Linked DNA regions of Homo sapiens. The protein of the gene in region 2 interacts with the protein of the main gene of each other region in a pairwise test. Each region holds a gene or a part of one and is shown on either strand. Other genes may lie near its edges. The genes, in order: LEFTY2 and ACSS3.

What was found.
Region 1: the proteins of ACSS3 (region 2) and LEFTY2 interact in a two-hybrid assay, tested with the Homo sapiens proteins (one large-scale study listed by BioGRID and IntAct).

The regions. Positions count from the first base shown.
Region 1 is NC_000001.11:225,938,421-225,942,823, reverse strand, and holds the start of LEFTY2 (left-right determination factor 2 isoform 1 preproprotein), read left to right. Parts: upstream 1-1,603; 5' UTR 1,604-1,683; coding exon 1,684-1,933; intron 1,934-2,821; coding exon 2,822-3,068; intron 3,069-3,223; coding exon 3,224-3,463; intron 3,464-4,403.
Region 2 is NC_000012.12:81,084,345-81,088,154, reverse strand, and holds part of ACSS3 (acyl-CoA synthetase short-chain family member 3, mitochondrial isoform 1 precursor), read right to left. Parts: intron 1-3,810. UniProt on the Homo sapiens protein: Catalyzes the synthesis of acetyl-CoA from short-chain fatty acids. Propionate is the preferred substrate. Can utilize acetate and butyrate with a much lower affinity.

The DNA.
Region 1 (4,403 bases), on a different chromosome or scaffold from region 2:
TGCATCTGCAAGATGCACCTGAAACTGACACCTGCCTCCTAAGGGCTGTGTGAATACACATTCAGAGCTTAGAACAATGACTGGCACATGCACTCAGGAAATGTGTGCTATTATTGTTGTTGAGAGTTTTATAAAAAGCCACGACCTGGCCCGGCACGGTGGCTCATGCCTGTAATCCCAGCACTCTGGGAGGCCAAGGCAGGCGGATCACCAGGTCAGGGGATCGAGACCATTCTGGCTGACACGGTGAAACCCCATCTCTACTAAAAATACAAAAAATTAGCCGGGCGTGGCATGCGCCTGTAGTCCCAGCTACTCGGGAGGCCGAGGCAGGAGAATTGCTTGAACCCAGGAGGCAGAGGTTGCAGTGAGCCTAGATCGCGCCACTGCACTCTAGCCTGGGTGACAGAGTGAGGCTACGTCAAAAAAAAAAAAAAAATGCAAAAAGCCACGACCCTGTGAATGCAGATTTCAGGCAGATAATAATGATAGCAAACCCTTACAGAGTGTTTACCTGTCACTAGACACTGGGTGAAACATCCTGCATGTATTAATGCATTTAATCTTCACACTAACCCTATGAAGAAGACCTTATGATCATCACCCTCTTTCTGTAGATGAGGAAACTGAGGCACTGAGAAGTTAACTCACTTGCTAGCAGGTCAAACAGTTAGCAGATGGCAGTTCTCATATTTGAACGTGGCCAGTCTAAAATGTGTGTTTGAAGAGACACAGGGGGGCTCCCACCTCAATCTGCCCCCAGTACCTGTGGCTTTGGACAGGCCATGCCTTTGGGCAGCTCTGGCCTCTGCTTTCTAAGTCCCTGTCCCTTGTCTGTGTCTGGAAATGACCTGGGCTCCAGCTGAGTGCTGGTGGCATGAACCGGCCAGCCAGCTCACTGGGGAGAGCACACCCCAGAATAATTCTGCTGTCTGAAGGGAGGACTCCTGTGCTGTGGTCACGTGACTGCAAAGGCACTTGCTGAAATTGCTGTTCCTGGGACTCCTAAAGACAGTAGAGCTGCCAGATTTGTGTCCTGACCGTGTCTAGACAGAGGATGTCATGGGGGGAGGGCAAGGACGGTGCGACAACCCTGAGGGACCCCTGGTGTGGGGAGAGGCAGGGGGTGTGCAAGGAGTGTAGGTTGGAGGGAGATGACCAAGGGGCTTCTGTGAATGTGGCCAGAACCAGCAGGAAGGCAGAATCCTTCCCGCCCTTCCTTTATGATTTGCAGACCTGGACCCAGCCCAGCCTCCAGAAGAGACTTAAAGAGATTTAAGCAGCTGGCTAGCAGGACTTTGTTTTTCACAGAATAGACTCACTTTTTCATAGAACAGGGCTGGGGTAAGGCCAGGAAAATTCAACAGGCACTAAAAATATTGTCAAGCTGCTGACAGCACAGCCAGAGGCCCCAGGCCTGGGTGGCATCCAGACAGCCCTGTCCTTTCTAGACAGCCCCCTCCTCCAGGCTCAGGGACCTGTCTGGCTGTGAGCTCCCAGGAGGTCCCAGGGGTGTGACCTCCCTCCCTCCCTCCCTCCCTCTTCCCTTCACCCCAGGCCAGCCCAGGGCCAGCTATAAAGCTGGCCCAGCCTGGCTCTCAGCACACCCAGCTGCCTGAGACCCTCCTTCAACCTCCCTAGAGGACAGCCCCACTCTGCCTCCTGCTCCCCCAGGGCAGCACCATGTGGCCCCTGTGGCTCTGCTGGGCACTCTGGGTGCTGCCCCTGGCTGGCCCCGGGGCGGCCCTGACCGAGGAGCAGCTCCTGGGCAGCCTGCTGCGGCAGCTGCAGCTCAGCGAGGTGCCCGTACTGGACAGGGCCGACATGGAGAAGCTGGTCATCCCCGCCCACGTGAGGGCCCAGTATGTAGTCCTGCTGCGGCGCAGCCACGGGGACCGCTCCCGCGGAAAGAGGTTCAGCCAGAGCTTCCGAGGTGAGACCCTCCCTCCCTGCTGGCCCCGGTCCCATGGTCGGGGGCAGGCCGGTTGTGCCCACTCTGGAGGTGTCGAAGGGCCCCTGGCCTTTTGGGACTCTGTGGGAGGCTGTGTGAGGGCCACGGTCCAAGGAGCAGTGAGGAGGAGCCGGGCCTGGGTCCAGGGTCTCCAGCTGTGCACTGAGGCCCCCCTCCAGCCCAGGGGAGGTGCACCAGGCTAGACCTGCTGGAAAAACCAAGACTTCAGAGAAGGGGAGGGTAGAGGAGAGAAAGTAGAGCTGGGGGAGCAGGTGAGTGTGTGCCTCAAGGCACTTGGTGCAGCTGGACTCCCAGGGTATGTTTTCACACTGCCACTCTGGTCTGAGCCTGACCTTGAGTAAATGGCTTTAAAATCCTCTCTCCACCATGTGCTCATCTGGAACAGGGGTATGACTATGTCTTCGCCATCTCCCAGCACTGTGAACGTCAAAGTGAGTCCTTGTGGATAGAAGCGTGTTTGGATAACTGAAAAATACCTAAGTAGACTACCTGGGTTATACCTGGCTGTCAGGGGTGCAACTGGGCCTGAATCCTCCTGCAGCCTCTCGCCTCCCTAGCTCCTCAGTGCCCAGAGCTAGAGCCAGTGCCAGGCACCTGGGTGAGGATTCTGCTCCCAGCATCTCAGCTGAGGCAAACTTGCTAGCCAGGGTCCCACAGGCCCCCCTGCCTGCTGGATGGAAATTGTTACTAAACAAGGCCCAGATCCAAGGAAGATTTGTAAACTGGGTTTGCCCCAGAGATAGAACAGGGCCGGTGTCTCCTGGCCTGGCTGCCAGCTCAGTGGCCCTGCCATCCTCAGAGCTCCGCTGGAGTCCGGGGAGGCCCTGCTGACCCTGCTCTTGTCCCCAGAGGTGGCCGGCAGGTTCCTGGCGTCGGAGGCCAGCACACACCTGCTGGTGTTCGGCATGGAGCAGCGGCTGCCGCCCAACAGCGAGCTGGTGCAGGCCGTGCTGCGGCTCTTCCAGGAGCCGGTCCCCAAGGCCGCGCTGCACAGGCACGGGCGGCTGTCCCCGCGCAGCGCCCAGGCCCGGGTGACCGTCGAGTGGCTGCGCGTCCGCGACGACGGCTCCAACCGCACCTCCCTCATCGACTCCAGGTGGGGGTCGCGCGGGCGCGCAGGGCAGGAGTAGGAGGCTGCTCGGCCCGGCTTGGGGGCGGGGACGCAGGGGGCGGTGCAGGGTCCTCGGGGCCCGTCCCAGTCCCCGCCCTCAAGCGGCGCTGGGTCTCCGTGTCGTGTGTATCATGTCTCAGGCTGGTGTCCGTCCACGAGAGCGGCTGGAAGGCCTTCGACGTGACCGAGGCCGTGAACTTCTGGCAGCAGCTGAGCCGGCCCCGGCAGCCGCTGCTGCTACAGGTGTCGGTGCAGAGGGAGCATCTGGGCCCGCTGGCGTCCGGCGCCCACAAGCTGGTCCGCTTTGCCTCGCAGGGGGCGCCAGCCGGGCTTGGGGAGCCCCAGCTGGAGCTGCACACCCTGGACCTCAGGGACTATGGGTAGGTGCAGGACTGGGCAGAAGGGAGGCAAGCAGCCACTGAGTGGTCCAGACCCCCGTCCCCAGGACTGTCTGGGGGACCGGATGGTGGCGGTGGGCTAGGGGTAGGGAGAGCGCGGTGCAGACTGTCCCAGGATGCCAGCGATTGCCCACTACATGTCAGGGTTTCTAATGGCAGAAATTGTATTGTTGGCCAGGCGTGGTGGCTCAGACCTGTAATCCTAGCACTTTGGGAGGCCGAGGCGGGCTGGATCACAAGATCAGGAGTTTGAGACCAGCCTGACCAACATGATGAAACCCCGTGTCTACCAAAAATACAAAAATTAGCCGGGCGTGGTGGCGCGTGCCTGTAATCCCAGCTACTCAGGAGGCTGAGGCAGGAGAATCACTTGAATCCGGGAGGTGAAGGTTGCAGTGAGCTGAGATCACACCACTGCACTCCATCCAGCCTGGAGGACAGAGCGTGATTCTGTCTCAAAAAAAAAAAAAAAAAAAGGAAACAAAGAAAAGAAAAGAAAAAGAAATATTATATTATTCAGGCCAGGCGCAGTGGCTCATGCCTGTAATCCCAACACTTTGGGAAGCTGAGGTGGAGGATTGCTTAAAGCCAGGAGTTTGACACCAGCCTCGGCCACACAGTGAAATCCTATCCTTAAAAAAATAAATAAAAAAAAAAAGTTTTAAAGAAACGACAAAAAAAAAATTGTAAGGCCAAGTATGGTGGCTCACGCCTGTAATCCCAGCACTTTGGGAGTGGAGGCCAGCGGGTCACCTGAGGTCAGGAATTCCAGACCAGCCTGGCCAACATGGTGAAACCCCGTCTCTACTAAAAATATAAAAATTAGCTGGGCGTGGTGGCGGGCGCCTGTAATCCCAGCTACTTGGGAGGCTGTGGCAGGAGAATTGTATGATTTATTTTATTTAAAAATATCTTTGACAAT
Region 2 (3,810 bases):
AAAGAACTAAGAATTGAAGCTCTGGCAATTAACTAAGTGAAAAGCCTTGCTCCTCTTATTGCAGTGGCCAAAGCTAATCGCATAATCACGTATATGTGGGGAAGACCAATCTTCCTACATATTAGCAGAAGAGAACAGACGAGAAAAGAAACAACACAAAAAATAGTAATACCCATCACAGTATGCATTTTATAATTCTTCCGTATTATAATTATTTGGACCAAGATACTGTTCAAAGAGTAGAGCCAAGATTTTGAACCAGAAATCAGTTTGTTTTCTCCACTAACTAATTCTCAATACTTTTTCCTCCTAACCACCAAAATTAGGGTATCCAACAAATCCCATTGATAAGAGTGGCAAATTTCATCTGTACTTAAGGAGGGAGAGTTGGGAGGGAGAGTTAGAGGAAGGCACAGTCTAGGTATTTGTGGTTTATTATAGAAAAATACTTGCCTCTCAATTGAAAATCAATGGAATTCTATGAAAATAAGAAAAAATGTATGGAGAGAATGCAAAGTGAGATTAGCGCAAAAGTGGACTTTTCTAAGCTCCCATGCACTCATTAGATTAAAGTTATTTAGCAAATGGACAATAATACGGAGTGACTAATTTTTTTTTTAGTCTTACTAAATTTTTCTACAGATATCTATACTGGCCAGATCTACAGTAGAAATTAAGCATTCTTTTTCTTCCTCCTTCTTTTCTTCTTCTTCTCTTCCTCTTTCCTCCTTCCTCCTCCTCCTGCTCTTCTTCTTCTCCTGCTCCTTCTTCTTCATCTTACCAAATTTATTTTACTTAACTGCTGCATCCACTTAGCAATGACACCTTGAAAGATTATACTTGGCAAGTGTTGTTATTCTACCATAAACACCTTAAGAGAAGGTATTCCTATTGTCCAGAGTCAGGTCATAAGTCAAAGACCTACAGACTTTAATTGCTTTCCTCCCTCTTAAGGCAATTAATGTTTTAAATTATTAAAGCCATATAATTAAACTCTGTCCCTCTCTAATTTAGTATTTGAAAGACCTTCTGTTTTTTACTATCCTCGTATTTCCAATTGGACTCCTTCAAACTCAAAATTCACAAATTTTAATTTTCCTAAGATATTATAAAAATAATACCTATCCTTTCTATGCACTGTTCCTTACCTCATTCAACTAAAACACTGACAAAAACAAATATAATTAATACCTTTAATATAACAAGTTCCCTATCCACGTAGTTTAGATAAAGGATTTGAGCTCCACATTCACATATACTTGAAACTGTAATTTAGAGAGGTTATTACATTCATATATATAATTGCAAAGATTCATTAGCCTCCTACACATTTTTCTTACAAATGTCACACCACAGTGGAAAGCAATGATCTCCCTCATGGAGTTGCAGCTTGTTGCTTATGAAAGTAGAATAAAAAAAAATAAAAAGAAGAAGAAGAACAAGCAAACAACTTCAACCACTGGATTTTTTTTGTCCTTTCAACTAATACTATATGTGGCATGACAAAAGAAAAGTAAGCCACCTTTCAGGCGGTGATAAGAGTGTGGATTTTCCCCCAACACCTAGTAGTTGATCAGTCACAGCCGATTGAATTTCCATTGTTCATTGATTGCGCCATTTGCCAGGCAATCCATCCTTGCTTATGTAATTGCAGCATTCCTGTAGTTCACTCTGTTCTGTCCTGAAGGTTCAGCAGCATGACAGGCTGAGAAAATTAGATACGGCACAGTACCAAGCTGCTGACCTTCAGAATATAAAATAAGGCCCATCTTTTAAAACTGGTCTTTCTTGATGAGGTTATTTTGAGAGGCCTTATTTCTAACAGGCAATTTTTCATGCCAAGCAGATACCTTCTTAAAATATTTTTAAATCTATAAAATAATGATGATTTTATATTTTAAATATACCTTTACTGTGTACAACGCTATGAATAAATTCATTTAATTTAGAGTTTGTCAAAAGGAGAAAAATTCTTCCTCTTTATATAACACTCTCACCTTCAAACCAGAATTAAATGTAATTTTAAAAATATCTGACAAATACTGAATTTCCCAAACAGTTTAATGTAGCTGAGCATTTGTTTGCCAAAGAGCCAAAGTTCAATAGGGGGATTAAATTGCTTTCTGGATACATAAAATCCCCATTATATTTGTATTTATTTTCCTTTGAAGCAATCTCAAACTCACAGAAAATTTGCGATTACAAGATAAAGTACTTTTTTTTTCCCTTTGAAACATTTACTGACATGATGCCCAAGAACCCTAGAATAATTTAATATGTAATTGTTATAAATAAGGACATTCTTCTAGAGAACGATACTATAACCATCAACTTCAGGAAACTAATATTGACACATTACCACCATCCAATCCTGAAATCCTGTTCTGGCTTCTTACTTGTCCTCAAAAATATCAATTATGGTGAAAATATTCAGAAACTACCTTTTGCATTTAATTCATATCTCTTTGGTCTCCTTCAATTTAGTAGCCAAAAATCTTTTTCAGGTTGGCCAAGATTTGGCAACCTGCCTTCGGAACAGTTCCCTTGATATTTGGAGGAAAAGATTCTGGGCTTAGCCACTGGAGCTATTAATACTAACCCAGGTCTAGCCTCTGCTAACTAGCTGTGTGGCCTTAAGATTCAATTCCCTCATATGTAGAAAAGGCATGATAATACTAACTTTGCAGCATCTGGGGAAGGAATAAATGGAAATATGTGACTCTACTGTATAGTTGATAGTTCAGAGAAAGGACTCAACAAATATTCATTATCTTTTCCCTTTTCAGCTGCTTCCTTATCCTCCCTGTCAGACTCACAAACAAATATTGAGATATTTAGCTCACTAGAATCACTGTAGTATTTAAAAAGAACAAACAGATCTACTGAGTACTCTTTATACCAATTCTGAGACTTTTGCAACCTGTTTCTTTCAGTAACTTGTAGCAGCAAAAGCAAAAAATTAACATAAGAAACCACACAAAGTTCAACTTGCAAAAACAAGGAGTCCTGTTGAGCAGTAGGCTTCAAAACAAGCAAAATTCCCTTCATTCCTATTTCATAATTTCTTCACTTCTGCATTTAAACATAGATTTCTTCTTAAAGGGAGGAGAGGAAATAAGGAATGAGGAAGAAACTTATTTTACTTGACCCAGATACCACCATACTGCCATATATTATCCTGTTTCATCTTCCTGTCACTGTCGAATATCCTCATGGAATGTTTTTGCCTATACCAGTTCACTCTGTAATGTGCTATTCTGGCTTTGGCCCTTATCTCACCATTGATATCATATTATAGAAAGTCATCAAGAATCTCTGAGTCACAGCAGATATTTTTTTGATTTTCAATAGCCTCAAAGCATCTCTAGAGCCCTTGACCACTATTTTTATCTTTTCTCTCCTTTACAATGCATGACACTAGAATATCTTGCTCTTTCTTTTCCTCTTTCTTTGAATGTCTCATCCATTTCCATAGTTTTTTTTTCTCCCACTTTTTCCCAAAGTTCAGTCCTTACTATTTTCCTCTTCTCTTCCCTTTCTTTCTCTCTTTCACTTCAACTTTCATAAGCTTCTACCTCTCACCTCTTTAAGATTTATACTAAAATCTATAATTCTACATCAAGTTCTCTCCCAGTTTTCAGCCTCGTAACTTTAATTGCCCCATCAATTCCTCATCTGGACATTTAAGTCAGATTCTTACAGTTACCATGTCTTTACTTCCCTGCATCCCGCTGCCAAAAAGTCACTATGTGTAATTTAATTTTTATTCCTGAAGTTCCTCTCTTTCTACACCTCCTGCTATTACCCTAG